4 separate regions of the Homo sapiens genome follow, and all the other regions are linked to region 1. The links come from fine-mapping of genetic effects on gene expression. A gene starts in region 1. Each other region holds a variant in brackets. All regions are shown on one strand. Distances are between the middles of the regions.

Region 1 (5,282 bases):
AAATGTAAAGAAATTGAAAATGTTTTTTTAAATTAAGAAATAAAATGGGAACAAGTTGAGTATAGCAGAGTATCAACTAAAGGGAAAAAAATCAAGCTTTTAAAGAATTAAACTTAGTTTTATTCAGAAGTCTCACTGAATTGTTTGAGGCCAGGAGTTCTAGACCAGCCTGGGAAACATAATGAGACCCCATCTCTACAAAAAATTAAAAAAAAAAAAAAATTGTCTGGGCGTGGTGACTCACGCCTGTAATCCCAGCACTTTGGGAGGCTGAGGTGGGTGGATCATGAGGTCAGGAGATCGAGACCATCCTGGCTAACACGATGAAACCCAGACTCTACTAAAAATACAAAAAATTAGCTGGGCGTGGTGGCGGGCATCTGTAGTCCCAGCTACTCAGGAGGCTGAGGCAGGAGAATGGCGTGAACTCGGGAGGCGGAGCTTGCAGTGAGCCGAGATTGTGCCACTGCACTCCAGCCTGGGTGACAGAGCAAGACTCTGTCTCAAAAAAAAAAAAAGTGTGGACTTCATTATGGCAATAGGGAGGCTTCAAGGCATTTTAAACCAGAAAGTAACACAATCCATTTAGTATTTTGCTTGTTAGCAACTGTACAACTACTTACAATCTGGCTGATAGAAAAATACTAGAGTGGTTGTACCAGGGTTGACTGGTTCCCCTCCCCCATAACCCCATGGCATTCCCACTCATCCTGGTTGGTAGAGCTTACCTCTCACTAGGTTGGAAATACCCAAGAATCACTTTCCCAGCCTCCCTTGCTGGTAGAACATGGGCATGTGACCCAGTCCCAGCCAATGGGATCTGAGGTGAAAGGATGCCAGGAGGATTCTGGAAAAGGCTTTCCTCCCTCAATGGACAAGACCAGTACCTCAGGGATAGCAGAGCAGAAAGGTGGAAGTGACGACATAATAGAACCACATAGAGACACATTCCTCTGGAGATAGCAGATAATTATTGTTTAAGCCACTTTTATTTGGATACTCTGTTACTTGCACCCTAAAGCATGTGAAGAGAAAGAAGCATTAATGAAGTCACCAATATCAATGAATGTGATGTTATAGAAAACTTATCAGACAAGGCATGGCAGCTCACACCTGTAATCCCACCACTTTGGGAGGCCGAGGTGGGACAACTGTTTGAGGCCAGGAGTTCTAGACCAGCCTAGGAAAAATTGCGAGACCCTGTCCCTACAAAAAAATAGAAAAATATTAGCCAGGGCCAGGTGTGGTGGCTCACACCTGTAATCCCAGCACTTTGGGAGGCCAAGACAGGGGGATCACTGGAGGTTAGGAGCTTGAGGCCAGCCTGACCAACACCGTGAAACCCTGTCTCTACTAAAAATACAAAAATTAGCCGGGCTTGGTGGTGTGCACGTGTAGTCCCAGCTACTCAGGAGGCTGAGGCAGGAGCATTGTTTGAACCCAGGAGGCAGAGGTTGCAGTGAGCTGAGATTGTGCCACTGCACTGCAGCCTGGGCAAGAGAGAGAGACTCTATCTAAAAAAAAAAAAAATTAGCTGGGCATGGTGGCATGCACCTGTATGTAGTCCCAGGTGGGAGGATCACTTGGGCCCAGGAATATGAGGCTAAAGTGAGTCAAGATCACACCACTGCACTCCAGCCTGGGCAACAGAGCAAGACCCTGTCTCAAAAAATAAAATAAAATGTAATATAACAAATAGAGACCTTTTTCCTTCAGATATTTATTTGAAGTAAATCAGCCTCTTAAAATTGGGAATAGTTACCTACAATTGTTAGCTGTTCACTGAACATCTCGAGTGCTTAAGCAAGAAACTACACAATTTCTGAGACGACATGTCTTGTTTTTTCTGTATGTGAAATGACTTTTTCTCACTCTTTTCTCTCATTTGCACATTTCCCCTAAGAAACACTGAAAACTGTCCCTGCTCCCTTCTAGGCAGCAATTCTCTTTTCTTGAAGGTCTCTCTTTCATGAACTCATGGAAGTCAAAGCACATTATCTAAGAAAAACCTCAGCATTGTGTAAACAAAAGAAGGCAACTATCAGCCTTCAGGCAACAGTATAGAATCATGGTTTTTTTAAAGTGAGAAATACCCTACAGATCATTTGTGGTCACACATTAGAATTTGAATACAGGTAAAACCAGAACATCTCGTTAGAGTTCTTAAGATTAATAACAACATTTATCTTTCATCCTAAATTCATATATACAGTAGCTGGCAACTTTTCAGCAACTCCACCTGATCCCATCTGAAGCAAACCCAATCCAGTCATCGCACACTGGGGTCCTATGGCTACCACATTCCTCATTCAAGGAATATTTACTAAGGATCTATCAAGCACTGGCACTGAGATTCAATCGCTCGGATCTTTTTTTCTCATATTGCTTACAATATTTCTGGGAACTCATGACTTTTTCATATGCAATCAATTTTTAAAATATCGGTGAGAAACACTACATATGTGATAGAGGACTGGAATTGCCAGGTAGAGATGGGAGATGATAGCTGCTTTGGGTTAGTCAGTGTCTCCTCCTCTTCCATTGACTTGGACAAATGTTTACAACGGAGATGATCTGATTCTGGCCCCGACAGGCGCGGGGACCCGTTGCGGACGGCCGCGGGGATTGCCCCCTTGGGCAGTGCGGCCCCGAGGATGCAGACACTGGCCCAGCGGAAGGAGGGCGCGGTGCGAGCTGGACGGCCCCGGGAGGCCGCAGACCGCCGGGCTCCCCGAGGACACCTCGCACCGGAGGAGGAGAGGAGGCAGCGCCCGGCCAGGCTGGGAGCACCTACGGCCGCGCGGGGGCGGGAGCCAGGTGGCCTCGGCGCGCCCGCCTCGCCCGGGCACCGAGCAGGAAGTGGCTGCGGCGCGGCCTCCTCGCGGTGCAACAGGGCGGGGAGGCGGCCGCAGCCCGAGCCGGAGCCCGAGCGCCGGGAGCGAGACCTCATGGCAGCGGTGGCGCCCGCGGGCCCCGGGGACTCCGCCTCGGCCGCCCTGGACGAGCTGTCACTGAATTTCACGTACGGGGCACCAGGCGCCGGCAACGGCTCCCTCTCGGGCGACTGGTACCGCAGGAACCAGGTAAGGGCCGCCCCGCAGCCACCGCAGCCCGGTGGGGACGCGGCCAGGGCGGCTGGCTCCGGGCGCCTCTGCGCCTCGGCCGCTTTCCTGCCAGCTCTCAGGAAGACACCCGGCCTCTCCGAGTGGGAAGAGGTGACATGCAATGTTTCCCGCATTGACCTAAGTCCGCCTCATCCGGAAGCGCGGGGGTCCGCCCAGTCTTCCTCTCCCGGGCACCCGGCACTGGGAGTGGGCGCCCAGGTCTTCGGCCTTGACCTCAGCCACCCGTTCCTGGGACCTCCGGGTCCCGATCCCGCCTCCCCAGCCTGCGTCCGCCCTCTTCTCCCGGAAGGAATCTAGGAGTGTGGGGGCAATTCACTCATTTTCACCCCAGGATCCTTTTACAGTTAAAAGAAAAGAAAAAAGTGACACCCTGTTATCAGAAGCAGAAAACTCATTAAGGGCAGCCTAATGTCACCTCGCGCAGATGCCCTGCGTGTGTCCCTGGTATCTCAACACAGCTCTTCCATTTCCGTGCGAGGAACACATTTTCTCAGGTTGCATTTGCAGGACTCTCATTCTTTCCCACCGGCCCTTTGGGAAAACTTTGTTAACTTAAACAACGCCAGTTTACACTGGAAATATACATTTAACAAAATCAAAGGGACTTGGAGCCGCCCATTTATTTTTGGCTTGGTTTAAGATGAGGAAGTGTTCTGGCCAGCCCTTCCTCTAGCAGCGTTCATATTGCAACTAAGTTTTATCACGGTGGATTCCAGGCTTCCTCCTGTTTTCATTAAATGTGTTACTTTGTTCTTGTTCTTTAACAAAACCATGGATACTTTTATTTTTGCAACAATATAATCAGAAAATATTTGTTGCTGTTGTCCTAAATCGGAGAGTTTAACCAATTATCAAAGATCTGGATTCCTTTTATGCCTGAAGTGTTCTAAATATTAATTTCTGAATGCAGAAGAGAATATATTTGTATAAAGAATAAGTAAGATAAATAAGCATGTTCACTTTATTAGTTTTCAAGAGGGGAGAGTATTGCTTTAAGTCATTTCATCATAAAAGATATAAAAATAGGAAAAATGAGGGTACTCAGAGCCTCTTGATCAATGTTTGTAATCCAACCCCATTTCTCCTTTCTTCTACCCACAGGAATTACAAAGAAAAGCATCATTTTTATGGGAACTTGAATCTATCTATTATATTATTCTTTTATTAGAAGTATTCCCAATATAAGTTTAAGAATGAGTTATCTATCCCCTCTTGATTAAAAAAAAAAAAAAAATAGAGGGTTAGCAGATGTGATCATCCAAAAACAGGACATTGTTTTCACAGTGGAAACCTCTGTAGTCATTAGTTTTCTTTGACATTTCCTGGAATTCTTGATTGTCTTGGCTGTCTGATATCCAAACACAGATTATCATGTGACATAAATGTGAGGCAAATAAATACTGTTTGCAAGGCTTAATTTGCCTTTGACAGTGTGTATTTGTACAGGTTAGAAAGGATGTATCCAGAATGTGCTAATTGAAATTACTGAGCTGACATCTAAACTTTGCTGGTTTGAGATAAAACTGTATCAAGTTTTGCCATTATTGTGCAAATTTAGGCCCTCTTATAAGATGGTGGTATTTTATCTTTTCAGTAATTGCATTTGTGTTAAGCAAAAGTAAAAATTAATTTTTAAAAAGTTTACTCGAGAAGCATTTTATTGAGTGCCTCTGGTGTTGTCCAGGCCAGTAAAAATAAAATTGAGTCTAATTTTTCTTGTCTTTTTTGACACTGAATAGAAATGGCTGAAAATGGGTGTGGATACAGAAAAACAAAGTGTGAGATATAAATGTGTCACTCCCACAATCAAAATGAATGTTGGTTGCTAACTAGCCACAGCTTAATGATGCTTATTTGCTTGCCTCCATTGGTTTTATCACAACTAAAATATTTGCACAGTGTGTGTTGGCTGATAGCCTAGTTCTCTGTCCCTTTATCCCTTCCAAAGTGATTATCATCAAATCTGATCAATTAACCTTACTACATAGAAAAAGACAAACTTCCCTGGAATGCTTTCATGTAATACATGTTTAACAGTGGCCACTTAGAATCAATGTTGTCTAAGACAAAGGTGTGAGTGCTTCTGGAGGAAGAAACCTCAAAGCAACTCAAAAGTAGTAGTTCAGTGGGGGAAGATGTCTTAGGAGCAGGGAAGTG
Region 2 (5,000 bases), 47 kb after region 1:
ATTTTGTCTCACATAATCAAAATTTCTGCTCCTTTTGTGTACTTTGAGTATAATATATATTTGTATACTTTGAGTGTAATATATTCGATTATATATTATATATAATTATATTAAATATATGATATTTAATATATTTGTATTAAATAATGTAAATATAATTTTATTGATTATGTTTAATATATTTAATATAATTATATTGATTATCTTTAATATATATTTAATATATTAATTATATTTAATATAATTATATTAAATTGTATTATGTTATACATTTAATATATATTAAATATAGTTACATATTAATAGATAATATATTAATTGAATATGTGTTCAATTAAAGTATACATGTCATATGATTGACATGTATATACGTATGACATATATGACATGTATGTCATATATGACATATGTCTGACATATACTAGTCATATATAGGACTCATTTGTAAGAAGCACCACAGTTAGCAATATAGGCATTTCAACTTGCCCTCTACCCATGTTTTCCTTTCTTGAAGCATCTTTCTTCTGTGCTTTCTTTCCCTCTCTCTGTGTGTCCTGCTGTTCCTCACTGACGTGCTCAGCTTCAGGCAGCATTTGTCCAACATTAGTTTTACAGGTAGATTCATAGGTGTTCTAAGAAACAAAGAATTCCATAATCAAACAGGATTCTGCAATTTGGGGTTTTAAAGGCGACACAGGTTTCATTAGTGTAGAGCTTCTTGGGGCCCTAAAACAGGCCTATGCACACTATGAATCTTTGAGGGGCAGATGCAGTACGCCAGGTCTCCAAAACATACTGAACACATCTGAGATTCCCTTGATTGTATCTCAAGGGACAGCAGTTCTGCAGAAAACCCTTTAGGGAATTCTTAAGGCAAAGCTCACAGGCAGTCACATTGTGCTAGAGACTCAGCCTAAATAACCCGTCTATGCTTCACTGTGAAGACGGCACAATGGGGAAAGATCTCAGTGCACAGGGATGCCCAGGCCTGGGTCCAGCTTTTTGAGAGAGTCAGAACCTTTGTATCCTTGTGTCATCTTTTAATTTTACTTTATTTTTCTCACTGGAAGTCTTTCTCAATGAATAATACGTCCAAAATCTATTCTGACTAAAATGCTAGTTTTACTAGCAGTGTGGTTAATTCTAGATGTGGATTAGTGTTTCCATTAATTCACAAAGCTTAATTAATGATTTTCAATTTCACCTAGAGGCTAGGTTCAATACTCGTCCAAATAAACCAGGGCAGCAGAAAGGTCAAGAGCTCTAGGGCCACACCGCCAGGGTTCAAATATCAGTTCTGCCATTGGCAAGCTCTGTGACCTTAGGCAAATTATTAAAACCAATTTATGCCTCAGATCCCTAGCCTGTAAAGTGGGAATGAAAGTAGTTCCCATATGAGAGGTCATTGTGCAGAAGAACTGAGTAAACTCAAACATCTAAGGACAGTGTTGGTATTGGTTAGATAGTATTTGACATAATGACAACACTGGCTATTGTCACTATGATTTGTAATTATTATCGTGTAGATAAATAAAATACCTTATTCTTTATAATGGAGCATACTTCCATGCCTCCAAAGATGGCTGATGGTTAAATTCTCTAAAATGGAGAAACCAATTCAAGAAAGGCTTTTTATTGTTCTCATCTATGCAGTGGCTAAATTTACAGAGAGCAATAAAGTAGGATCCTCACAGCTCATTTTTCATCTAATTAAGTAGCAATTACCCTTCAACTCCTTCACATATTCCCTACCAAAACACGGTGGAAAATAGAAGAATTTCCAAATAACCTACCAACACGAAATACATTTTAAAAACCAATACAGGAGTTTGTCAGAGGAAATGCTTAGCAAGCTAGATGTATATACGGTTTTCCATCTTCTTGCTCTGGCTTCAAAGCACTTGTGTTCTCTTGTTCATTAACTACAGAGAGGCCGAATGGCAGATTCCTTTCAGATCAACTGTGATTTGAGGATACGTTTTCTGGGAAACTATTAATATACCAGAAATCCAGTACAAAGAAATAGGTTAGATATTCTGTGGAGTTTGTAATAAAATTTCAAACTGCTGCTAATCCTTCTTGTCTCAGGTAAACCCTTGCTCAAGAGGCCTTCCCTGGCTTTCAGACTAAGGTAATTAAACAGACTTACTCTCTGCTCTCTTCACACCCTACGCAGGCCCTCCTCTCATCTGTGTGGTGCCGTTTTGTGAATTAGAAAAAGGGAGCCCTTTCTCAAAATACTTTATTTCTGTCTGTCTGCAAATGATTGTAATACATTAATTTTGTTAGAGCAGGACAATCTGGGACCATCTGTCAGAGAATTGTGCTGAGAAATACACAAATCAACAAGGTGTGAGATGCGGGTGGTGCCACCTCAGATGTGGAGACTCTCTGCATTGCAAAACTTACACAGCCCGCCCAACCACACACAGC[A/G]ACCCTGCCCTACACTTCCCCTTTGGCACCTCTCAGCATGCGCACAATGACCTGTTTCATGTCCTTCCTCACCATTTAACTGAGACCCAGGGGACTGGTGACTGACTGTGTGTCTCGTTGCTTGACATTTGCCCTTCCTGGGAGAGCACAGCACGGGGAAATCACAAAATGCAGCCTGCAGAATTGGTTCAAATTTGAATTTTGACAAAACAAGGATAGGATGTTCCGTTCTAGGGTGTTGGAAGAGATAAATACTTGCTTAAAAGATTTCAATTCCTAATGAAGCACGGTGGTTAAACAGTTCATTGCAAGAGACTCATGAATATTCATGCTTGTGAACACTCATAGGTCTATAAGCCTGTCCTTTGGGGATTGAGTTCAGTTATTTGTGCATCTCCAAAGCGTGGGCTTACATTTAATGTTTTCCTTTTTCTGTTTATCCCCATGACTGTGATCTATGCTATGCCTAAACATTTAGAGATGATTAAAAACAATGAAGTTATCAACAATCCAAAGAATTGAAGCCACATGGAATTAAATAGCTTCATGGCAGACTTCTCTCAGTATAAAATTAACTTGTCTATGGGGCGGCAAGGAAGTGGGATATGGAGGGAGATCATTGCAGGGGCAAGGAGGGAGGGAGGGAGAAATAGAATGTGATGGAAGCACCGGTGACATTTTTCAGTTCTATGCCTCTGAGTATATTGATTAAAAGTAACTAGAAAAGAGTGCAAGAACATATCAGCTTTTTCCAAGTTAAATTCGGGCAATACTTTAGACAAAGTAATAAAGGTAAGAAACTAATATTGAATGAGCATCCACTATGCCAGGTATGAGACACATAAACTCATTACCTCAATCATTGCCCAGCTGAATGGAAATGAGTAATAAATAGATTGACTTTGGGATAAATTATATTAAATTAAGCACTTGAAATTTTGTATGGAAAGATAATAGCAGCAAGATCTCCATGGCCCTAGAGTAAGTTCCTAAGAGAAGTAGTCGCACTGTTACTGAGCTAATTTGTATTAAGGTTGGAGAGCTAACTGCACTGAGAAAATGAGGAGAGCATGAGTCTGATAAGTCTTTTCCATCTCTAATTTTCCCCAATATGCTGGTTTTTGCTCAAATCAAAATTCATGATGTGGAATACATGTTGTTTTGTGTATTTCTGTGGTGCTGTTATGAAGCCCTAAACTGAAATGTATCTGTAATCCATTAGACGACGGTCATAGCAGAGCCAGGAAGCCCTGGTGAGGCCTTTTGGAATTCCAAAGAAATCATGTCAAGGAGAAACTTTGGTCTCCAAGATTTTTATTAGAAACAAATGAAAGGAAACATAAACAGACCAATGAGCAAGTGACCCATAGCGTTACACAAACCTAGATGCTGCGAATTCTCTTTGTCCCTTAGAGCAGTGTGCTTACTGCCAGCCTGGATGAGGTCACCGGAACTCTAAAACCTCACAGGATGCCTGTGATAGTGTCACTTCACACGGACATTGATTTTAATGTTCAAGATATGCAGAAAATATCACTTTTCTTAGTGGCTTGATGAGTTATCTGCTTTTGCGTGTTTGTCCAAAAACCAGCCTACATAAAATGTGTGAAATAAAACTCTGAAGTTTTAATCTATGTCTGCTCATATACGCTCAGCAGAAAGCATTCCTGAAGCCTAAACACTTTATTTGAAACATCTTTTCCACTCATCCTTATTTTTTCAGCATGCCACAAGAGTATTTCTAGAGAGGCTGCTAATGATGAAGTAACACACAATTAAATTTGTAATACAGAATTAATCTAGTCAGTGGTAGTATTTTTACTTTTTTGGAGTCTTTTCAACTTTAACATTAACGCATGCCAAGAAAAATGTAGAAAAGAAAGGATTATTGTTCTTAATCCAGGTAAGTTCCCTCGTTTGAAATTATGCAAATTGTCTCTGAACGACAGTTCCTTCATTATCTTCAGTAAATGACAATAGCAATTTTTTTAATCAACATGAATTACTTGACACTTTTCTTCCTGCCAACATGAATGGTAGAACTTTTCCCGCTGTAAGATGACATTTTTCAAACTGACATATCCTCAGATATTCAAATCTTAATTCCATGGAATACATTGTAATTGACATACCTCTTTTCCTAAAGTTCTACAACTAACGGGGAATGATAATTATGTAGTAGTACCTCAATATGGTTAGAGTTGACTCTGCCTGTGAGCACGCTCGATGTGTCCACGTGTTTGGAGCTTGATTGTGACTGACATGAAAGTGTTTTTGTGGTTTGCTTTTTAGCAGTACAATAAAGTTGCCATTATAAGTGGTCAGAAACCACAAGCCAGATATTTACATGTGAGGTTCTGTTTGTAGCATTATTATGTAAATATGTTCTTTTCATGTCATGGGTTATTTTCTTTTTATAAGAGAGAGTTTTCCTTAGTGTTTTATCTTCTATTTTCCTATATTATAAATATACATCCTGGTTTCTCTTTATATCACAGAGATGACGTAATAAATTGAATGTCCAGGAAATGAAAATGGATGAAATTTTTATTTGTAGGCTAGATTAG
Region 3 (5,000 bases), 86 kb after region 1:
AAAAGAAATATTCTCAAATTGGACATCAGGGAAACTTCCAGATTGATTTTGAAAATGATTCTGAAATTGGATTCAGCCAATTTGCACTAGTACAGCTGTAAGGATTATTCAAATAGCAGCCACCATGCTTCCTTCCCCTAATATCTGCTCCTCTCAACCCCAGCCCCGTCATGATAAATACTAAGACAGGGGTTCTCCAGGACCCTCTTCCAGCAGTGCCACAGCCAGCACCCTTTCTGATTGGCCCTTGCAGGTTGCGAAGTGTTTTGGCTACATGCATAAATTTTCATCTAAAACAAGGTAAATCAGCTTGAAAGTAAAACAAAGCAGGAGGTCATGATATTACTAAATGAAAATTAAGGCAGAAGATATTAAGTGAGATAAAAGGGGTAATTTATCCTGACAAAAAGAGCACAATCCACAAAATATCATATCCAATATGCAACAGAAAATCTGCAGAAAATGCAAAACTACACTAACAGAAATATAAGGGGGTTAGGAGACTTCTCTCAGCTCATGGAAGATAATTAGACAGAAACCCATATAAAGACAGAGGATCTGAATAATTAATCATGAACTGGTACCTCTAATATTGAACTCTAAATCCTGAAAACAGAGAATAAACTTTCTTTCAAGTGCCTGTGTAACGTTTACAAAAGTTGATCCTATAATTGGCCATAAAGAAATCCTTGATAAATTCCAGGAAGTTGAAAGAATACAGACCACATCCTCAGATCACAGTGAAATAAAAACAGAAAAATAATAACAAAAATAGAAACCAGTAAAACCCTACCACCTGGAAATGTTAACACTACCCTTAAACTGCAGCTGTGCAAAGTACAAACCAAGATTTAATTGCAGCATATTTTTAAATTATTATTAAAGCACTTAATATTAAACCTAGAGTTCATGACTAATGCTGTATTCAGAGAGATTGATTGCTTTAAATGTAAGTCAATTAAGCATTCAACTCAAGAAATTAGAAAAAATACTGAAATAAAGCTAAGGAAAGCAGAAAGAATTAATTAAAATTAATTAAAAAGGCAAAAATTAATGAAATAGAAAAGAGAAAAGTAATGGATTTATAACTAAACACAACATGTTCTTAAAAGACAACTAATAAAATAGATCCTCCATCAGAAAAAAAGAAAAACCACAAATACCCCAAAATAGAAATGATAGATAGATATGCATATATATAAATTTGAATGAATTGCTTATTTTTTAATGAAAATAACTATGGAGGAAATAAAGGAGTTGTTAAAAAGCTATATCCTAAAAAAGAACCAGGCCTAGAGAGTTCCAAAGGTAATATCTTCAAATCCTTAAGGAATAGATTATTCTGATGCTGTTGCAACTATTTGAGGACATAAGAAGAAAGCTTTTACTTTTTAGAAAACATAATCAGATGAGACTCACCTCCCAAAATGGGAAACAAAATAGGACAAACAAAAAACACTATGAACTAATATCACTGCTAAATATTGATACAAAAATCCAAAAAAAAAAAATTAGCAAATAAAACAGAGCAAATCATACTCAGTGACAAAATGGTCTTTGTTTTGTTTTGAGACAGAGCCTTGCTCTGTCACCCAGTCTGGAGTATAGTGGCACAATCATAGCTCACTGCGGCTTCAAACTCCCAGCCTCAAGTGATCCTCCTACCTCAGCCTCCTGAGTAGCTGGGACTACAGATGCGTGGCATCATGCCTGGCTAATTTTTTTTTTTTTTTTTTTTTTTGGAGAGACAGGGTATCCCCATGCTGCCCGGGCTGGTTGCAAACTCCTAGGCTCAAGCAATCCTCCTGCCTCACCTTCCCAAAGTGCTAGGATTACAGGCATGGGCCACCACACCTGGCCCAAGTGGTCTTAATAAAACTGGTTCTTCTCTGTAACACTTACAACAATTTGCACTTACATATTCTACTTATATGTTTATATGCTGTTATGAGCCCCTCTTCCTGGCCAGATTAGAGCATGTCTATTATTTACAGTATATATTCTTTAAGTAGAATTGAGCACAGTAATCACACAGTAAACATTTGAATTTAATTAACTATGGGAATGAAAGAAGGATTCTTTAAGAAATTCATTAATATAGTTCATCAAGTTTCATATGCACTCCTGATAAAGAACTTGTTGGTGAAATACCAGAAGCGTTCTCATTACAGCAAGAAATGAGAACCAAGATGCTCACTCTGCACTGTGTGCTCATCTTGAATATTGTAAATGAGCATTAGTACGTTTTAAAAAAGTAATTATGAAAGTCATGTTGTATCCATGAGACGTAACAAAGTACATGATATTGCTTGTGTGATTGATAAAAAATGGAATTAAAAAAAAGAAAATAGCAAGTGAGGGTAGTCAGAAGAAAGAAACCTGGCTTCTGGCGAGTGGCCCACTTTGCCAGTAGTGGTGATCATTCTTAAAGGACTCCAGGCCTGGTGTGATGGCTCACACCTGTAATCCCAGCACTTTGGGAGGCCATGGCAGGTGGATCACCTAAGGTCAGGAGTTTGAGACCAGCCTGGCCAACATGGTGAAACCCCAGCTCTACTAAAAATACAAAAATTAGCCAGGTGTGGTTGTGGGTGCCTGTAATCTCAGCTACTCAGGAGGCTGAGGCAGGACAATTATTTGAACCCACGAGGTGGAGATTGCAGTGAGCCAAGATCGCACCATTGCACTCCAGCCTGGGCCACAAGAGCAAAACTCCACATCAAAAAAAAAAGTACTCTAACGCCTCTGGGTTGATCAGGAAACCAGGAAGGCCAGGAAGTCCTTCTCTATCCATGGAATGCTTTGGTTATCAGAGACAAATTAGTAAATAAAATGTTTATGGCTCTCATAAGGAAATGTTGATGGCAACCTAG[A/G]AAAATTTTTGAAAGGAGGTATATTGATGAAAATCTAAGAGGGAATTGAGAGGGCCAAATTTCAAAAACAGGTCAGCACATGTTTAGAAAAAATGGTGTTGTTCTAATGATGAAAGTATACATGGTAATTATTGACAATTACGAAAATAGAGAAAGATACAAAGAAAAATACAAAAATCTGTGCAATTGAGCACTGTACAACAGAGTGTGACTGGTACTCTCTGGAAGGCAGTTTGCTAGTATATTTCACAAGCCTTCACAGTGGCTGTAGTCAGGAATTCCCCTTTGGTGGTTTTCCTAAGGAAATAGGCAGAGTGATAAACAAAGACTTACGTTCAAGAATATTCATCACAGCCCCGCTTTTAATAGTTAAAAAAAAAATGGATACAACCTAAATATCCAAAAATAGGGAATTGCCAAAATAAATTCATACAAATTCATGGTTTAGAAGAATACTTAATGAAATAGAAAATACTTTAGGTAAATAGGTTCCTAAGTGGTATATACTTGGAAAATGAGCTCCTAAGTAGCATATACCTTATGATTCACATGTTGTAACCTATTCATACTTATAGATAGGAAAATAACAACATGTCCAAATGTCAAAAATGATTTGAGGTGAGTGCTGAAACTACAGGCAATTTTAATTTTCCTTTCCAGGCTTTCCCACATTTTCCAAAAATTTTTAAATGAATATGTTTACTTTTGTAGATTTTTTTAATGAATTTCAAGTTAATTCATTATCCCAGTGCTAGAGATAACCACTGACAATATCTTGATGTAGTTTATTCTCATCTTTTTTTCTGTGCTTACCTAAGTACCTTCTATTTTTAAGTATAATGTTAGAAGAACACTGCATTACAATTATGTATTTCCACCTATCCTCATCAACCACCCCCCAAAAATACTTAGAAGTACTCAACACCAGCCTAGAAATAATTTACAGGTTAAAATAGTGATTAATCAGTTGACAATTGTGCATGCTTTGAAAATGTAACGATTGGCTACAGAAATTGATAGTTTGTTTAGCTATCAATAACAGAGAATTCTAGTTTTGTCTTTGTCTTGTGTTTAAGTATAATATAAAATCAGATAGTGGTTAAATCAGATGACCTTTAAGGTCCTTTGCAATTCTGAGGTTCTGAGGCTAATGGAACAGTACGTTCAACTCCTTCTCCATTAATTGTCCCGTTGGGAAACCTGGCTGTTCAGACCACAAGATCATAATCACACTGTGTTCTAATTTCAGGCAGTGTTTAGAAGGAAATCAAGGTCCCTCAAGAGCTAACCTACAAACTTAAACCATCAAGTGACACACAGATCTCTATAGATATTTAAAATGCCTAGTTTAGCTAAGATGTGGCTACTAGCATAATCAGTAGGAAATATGTAAAAGAATCAGGTCAAAAGACATCTTAAGATGGAGAAAGGCCTGATTGTAAGGGCCTCTTTGTTGAGAAGTGGGGTTTGTTTTTAGAATTTATCACCTGATCTCCTCTGTCAATTATGATTTTTTTTTCCTTTTTTTTTTTTTTTTGAGACAGAGTCTCGGTCTGTCACCCAGGCTGGAGTGCAGTGGCCCTCTGCGAACTCCGCCTCCTGGGTTCACGCCATTCTCCTGCCTCAGCCTCCCGAGTAGCTGGGAATACAGGCATCCACCACCATGCCCAGCTAATTTTTTGTATTTTTAGTAGAGACAGGGTTTCACTGTGCTAGCCAGGGGATGGTCTCGATCTCCTGACCTCATGATCCGCCCGCCTTGGCCTCCCAAAGTGCTGGGATTACAGGTGTGAGCCACCGCGCCCGGCCAATTATGATTTTTAACTAAAAGAAAATGCCTAATTTGGAAGTGTGCCCTAGTACCCTTCAAGTTAAAGTATATTTTCAGTTTTTGGAAAACGATATTATGGGAGGCTTTTCTTGGCTGGCCACCACTTGCTGTTTTAAATATATATATATTTCAAATACATACATACATACATACATATATATATATACACACACACACATACATAAAATACCTTTTCAAATAAAATGAAGGAAACTCAGATATATTATGACCAAGTAGATCAACAGCAACAAAAGGAGTATTTCTCCTTCGCATTGCCTTTGACTTATAGTTTTTTT
Region 4 (5,000 bases), 58 kb after region 1:
CATGCCTGGTTTACCCTGTGTGAAACTTCCATTCCTGTAAGTAACCTGCCCGGGAAAAGTTTTGAAGGACAAAGATCAACCAGAATGAGAAAAAGCTAAGTTGAGGAAAAAAAAAAAAAGGAAACAAATAGCATCTCATCTTATCCTGCATGAGGGTTTCTGGTGTGGACTTATTTTGTTTTCAATAAATTGCCGGAACATCAGATATAGTCACATTCAAATTTAACCACAGCATCTGTTTAATGGATTATTATACCAACATTAAAATTATGTCTATGAAGAATTCTTGATGACATGGCAAATTGTAATGTGTTAACTGAGGAAACTGAGAAAGGAAATTTGATATTAAAGTTTGATCTCAACTGAAGGGAAATAAAAACACCAATATATTAACTGCAATTTTCTTTACAGGATGATATTATTTTATGATAACTTTTCTTTCCTGTACTTTTACTTTTAAAAAACAACCAGCAAATAGTTTTTGTTAAAAATTTACAGCATATATTATGTTGCATATCTTTTTGTATTATTGCAATTTTGGATTTTCCCATGCCTATACTCATAAATGACCCCATAACAGGGACAACTCAGAGAGGTTCAGTTTAACCCTGGTACCTGAGGCGACAGTAGCAGACGATGGCTCGACTGTGAGGGAGAGAGTCCAGTAGTGTCACTAATGGGAAAGAGAACAACTGCAAGGCTGAGATCCCATACTCTTTCATTTCATTCAATGAGCATTTATTGAACACCTTTTATGTGCTAGATACAGCTACTCACTGGAGATCTTAGAAGAATAAAAAGACATATCTCAGATTAAAAGGAACTGATGGTCTTTCGGGGAAGACAGGCAAATAAATCTTAGGTGTAGTGAAAAAGCTATACACAGGGGTAATCAGAGCATAAGGGTGGCGGGATCAGCTCAGCCCAGGGGAATCCAGAGGTGACACTTGAGTCTAGAGCTGGTCACAAGGACAGGGCAGAGCTGGACATGTAAAAGCCATTAAGCATGAAACTGCATGGTGGATTCTGGGAATTATAATTACTTCAGTAAAGGTGGGCTACAGATTATCAAATAAAGACAAATGTGGTGACCAAAGCATCAGAAGCAAAATCATAGCTCTTTGAGTGTTCTGCTTGGTAGTGTGGCCTTTGTCCTGTAGACCAGCCACTTAGGGGTTTGAAAGCAGTGGATTTACATTAGATTTGCATTTTAGAGCGATTACTCTGGTGGTGGTATGGGGAAAGGGGAAAAGGGGGAAATGGGAGGTCAGAGGGAAGCTAAAGGTCTAAGCCAGAGAAGCTGCCCTGAGCTTGGGATAGGGCTGGTGATCACAGGAATGAAGAGTTGGGAACAGACCTAACAAAGAGTGAAATAAGGCTGGTTGCGGTGGATTACGCCTGTAATCCCAATACTTTGGGAGGTCGAGGCAGGAGGATCACTTGAGCCCAGGAGTTTGACACCAGCCTGGGCAACATAGTGAGACCCCATTTCTAAAAATAAAAAAATTTTTAATTAGCTGGGAGTGGTGGCATGAGCCTGTGGTCCCAGCTACTCGAGAGGATCACTTGAGCCTAGGAGTCCAATGTTGCAGTGAGTTATGATCTTGCCACTGCACTCCAGCCTGGGCAACAGCGCAAAACCCTGTCTCAAAAAAAAGAAAAAAATAGAGTGGACTATAGATTTAGACCCAGTGACCTGTTGGATGTGGATCGTCAAATAGAAGAGAAATAGGAGCAGTCCTGGGATTCTGGTGTTAAGTAGATACAGGAATTGTCGGAACAGGAATTATAGGAGGAGATGCTGGGAAATCATGAGTTTCAGTTTAGCACATATTTAAAGTTCTTCCTGTCCTTTTTTTTTTTTTTTTTTTTTTTTGAGACAGGATCTCCTTCTGTCACTGAGGCTTCAGTGCAGTGGTGCCATCATGGCTCACTGCAGCCTCAACCTCCCAGGCTCAAGAAATCCACCCACCTCAGCCTCCCCAGTAGCTGGGACTACAGGCCCACGCCACCATGCCCCACTAATTTTTTGTATTTTAAGTAGAGATGGGGTGTTTCACTATGTTGCCCAGGCTTATCTTGAACTCCTGGACTCAAACTCCTCCCAAAGTGCTGAGGCTTACAGGCATGATCCACTGCACCCTGCCCCATCCTTCTTTCTTTCCTTCCTATCTCTTCCTGTCTTTCTAATCCTTCCTGCTCTTTCTGCCCCTTCCTGCTCTTTCTGCCTTTCTTCTTTCTTTCATTTGTTCTGTCTTTTAGCAAACTTTTATTAAGCCTTCACTATATACAAGACACTGTCTCAGCCACATCCATTGTAAACCACACCAATTTCCACATATCCTCAGCCACAGGGGGAAGAAAGGCCTTTTTATAGCCACAACTGCTGAATGTCTCTGATCAGGACATAGCTCATCAGGCATAAGGCACAAATTGCTTAACTTCTTTCAAATGGCATTGCGTAATAGACACTTTTATATTGGAACTACCACTAATGGCCATTTTCTTTATAGGTAGTGCCATTATTTCTGTTACATTTCTGAAAGACAATTTGAGAGCCTCAGACTTACTCGGTAAGTAATTATTTAATTCATGTAATTGTAGCATTGCTTGATCAGGAAATAAATAATACAATCCATAAAAAATATGTGCGATAAAAACTGGAAACAAATTACTGAAATGGGTGTAAGTCTCATTTAGAGTCAGGCATTATTCTGTCTTGGAGCTGCCATCTCTTCTC[G/A]CATAAAATACTTCCATTTCTATTGTGACTACTGCTAAATGTGATCAATTTTTGCTATAGCAAATTATTAATTAATAATTATAATGAATTATTATAAAATAATTTATGATTATAATATTAATCAGTTGAAGGGATTATATTATTATAATGCACTGAATTATAATTTCATAACATTTTATTATTATAATAACCCATTAAAATACAAATACTTTAGGCACTTTAAATAAAACAATGCCTCCCTTCTTCCAGGGAGATCATATTTTTTTTAAAATTTGAGCTCTAAATGTGACACTAGTGTTGGTATGTTGAGCATTTGTATATTTTATAATGGGTTATTATAATAATATTAATGTTATAAAATTTTATGAACACCATAAAATTCAATGAAAACATTTGTGTTACCTAATAGACTATTACACTCCAAAGGATATATTTGTTATATTGTTACACGAAAGTATTGCATAAAAATGAAAACCACAAAAAATTTGATGCATCAACTAACTAAAATTTATATTTGGCTTTTCCCAAAAGTAGCACAGACCATTGTTCTTAAATATTTTATTTGGAAATACAGTTATTAATGGAAAATGACAGTAGCCTTCCTGGCTGTAAGAAACATTTCTGATGTATGGCAAAGCCATCACTTATGTGTTGAATTTTCCAGCTATTGTTGGACATATCATTGGTGAGAAGAATTATAGAGATTCATATTTTCTTCCGTGACAAAATCCTGTTTGAATTGCTGCTGACATATGATAATGAATACAAATACTTTAGGCACTTTAAATAAAACAATGCCTACCCTCTTCCAGGGAGATCATATTTTTTTTAAATTTTGAGCTCTAAATGTGACACCAGTGTTGGTATGTTGAGCATTTGTTTTCCCTGATCATGTTTCCCTTGAGCGTAATGTCTTGAAAATGTTTTCTCTTTTTCTTTTCCTCCTTGGTTTGATTCTGCTAGCAGAGTTTTTAGTCAACATTGTCAAATTTTTCATGGTTAAATGTTTTTCTAAATGCATTCATATGTGGATTCTATCTCTTCCAACATATTATTTTTCTATACCCTTTTTTATATATTGTGGTTTGTAGAATCATTTGGGGAAGTTGTATGGACTCAGAAATAAGAATGGCCAATGCCTGATGCAGTGGCTGATGCCTATAATCCCAGCACTTTGGGAGGCCGAGGCAGACGGATTGCTTGAGTCCAGGAGTTCGAGATCAGCTTGGGCAACATGGCAAAACCCCGTCTCTACTGAAAAAAAAAAAAAAAAATAGACAGGTGTGGTGTCATGCACTTGTAGTCCCAGCTACTTGGGAGGCTGAGGCAGGAGGATCACCTGAGCCTGGGAGGACGAGGCTGCAGTGAACCAAGATTGCACCACTGCACTCCAGCCTGGGCAACCGGAGTGAGACTCTATCTCAAAAAGAAAAAAAAATGACCAATACCTGAGTTTTATAAACTAAAAATTAGGTCCTAGATATATTATTTTTCTCATTTATCAAGTGGCTTAAGGGAACTTTAAATCCTTTTATCTAATATCTGTCACCTTTTATAGTTAATGATTGAATAATGATCAAATTAATCTAAGGTATTTAATGAGAGAATGCAGATATAAAGGGGGATTTGCTGACTAATCTTGAATATTAGTGATAAATGATAATTAAGACAGAATCCCCGTCCACAAGTAATTTATAGTCCATGATAATATAGATTCATAAATAGGTTTTTTTTTAAGTAGAAAAGAATATGTGCCATAATGTCATGAGTCTTTAGTTTAGAAGTGTTTCTGAATCAGCATTGCTGACATTTGGGGCCAGATCATTCTTCATTGTAGGGGCTGCCCTGTGCACTGTAGGATCATTAAGATCCCTCCTGACCTTTACCCACTAGATCCCTCTAACATCCTCCCACTCAGTTATGACAACCAAAAATGTCTCCAAACATTCCAAAATGTCTCCTAGGGGACAAAATTACTCAGGTTTAGCCCTGTTCTTCTCTAGCTGAGAAGATCAGAGAGAATTTTTTACAGCAGAGATAACATTTGAATTGGTTCTGACAGCTGGGCAGGACAGGCATAGGCTACATCCAATAATTTGGAGGAGGACATACAGAGGGAATAACATGAGAAATGTTAACAAAGATACAAAAAGGTAAAGTAAGTTTCTATTTCATACTGCACCTTAACTCCTGCCTGTAAGGCTTAGGAAAAAATAAATGCAAGTTGTAACTATGGAAAGGAAGAAATAAAAATATCAAT

Evidence for each region.
Region 2: its variant is fine-mapped to the expression of NIPAL2 in whole blood (TOPMed, PIP above 0.99).
Region 3: its variant is fine-mapped to the expression of NIPAL2 in whole blood (INTERVAL, PIP 0.95).
Region 4: its variant is fine-mapped to the expression of NIPAL2 in whole blood (TOPMed, PIP above 0.99).

What each region holds. Positions count from the first base shown.
Region 1 is chr8:98,291,804-98,297,085 of GRCh38, reverse strand. It overlaps NIPAL2 (NIPA like domain containing 2), which reads left to right and starts at 2,851. Exons shown (of 11, transcript NM_001321635.2): 1 at 2,851-3,083. The coding sequence starts at 2,949. The region is part of intron 5 of LOC105375659 (a long non-coding RNA gene); the gene reads right to left. RefSeq lists a silencer at 2,612-3,331.
Region 2 is chr8:98,244,888-98,249,887 of GRCh38, reverse strand. The region is part of intron 3 of NIPAL2 (NIPA like domain containing 2); the gene reads left to right. NIPAL2-AS1 (NIPAL2 antisense RNA 1) reads right to left here. Exons shown (of 3, transcript XR_928444.3): 3 at 520-632. Among named protein-coding and RNA genes, the nearest start is that of NIPAL2, 47 kb to the left of the region's middle. The variant A/G (reference allele first, on the strand shown) is at 2,434.
Region 3 is chr8:98,206,187-98,211,186 of GRCh38, reverse strand. The region is part of intron 6 of NIPAL2 (NIPA like domain containing 2); the gene reads left to right. All of the region lies in intron 2 of NIPAL2-AS1 (NIPAL2 antisense RNA 1), which reads right to left. Among named protein-coding and RNA genes, the nearest start is that of NIPAL2-AS1, 32 kb to the right of the region's middle. The variant A/G (reference allele first, on the strand shown) is at 2,874.
Region 4 is chr8:98,233,728-98,238,727 of GRCh38, reverse strand. It overlaps NIPAL2 (NIPA like domain containing 2), which reads left to right. Exons shown (of 11, transcript NM_001321635.2): 4 at 2,514-2,573. The region is part of intron 2 of NIPAL2-AS1 (NIPAL2 antisense RNA 1); the gene reads right to left. Among named protein-coding and RNA genes, the nearest start is that of NIPAL2, 58 kb to the left of the region's middle. The variant G/A (reference allele first, on the strand shown) is at 2,741.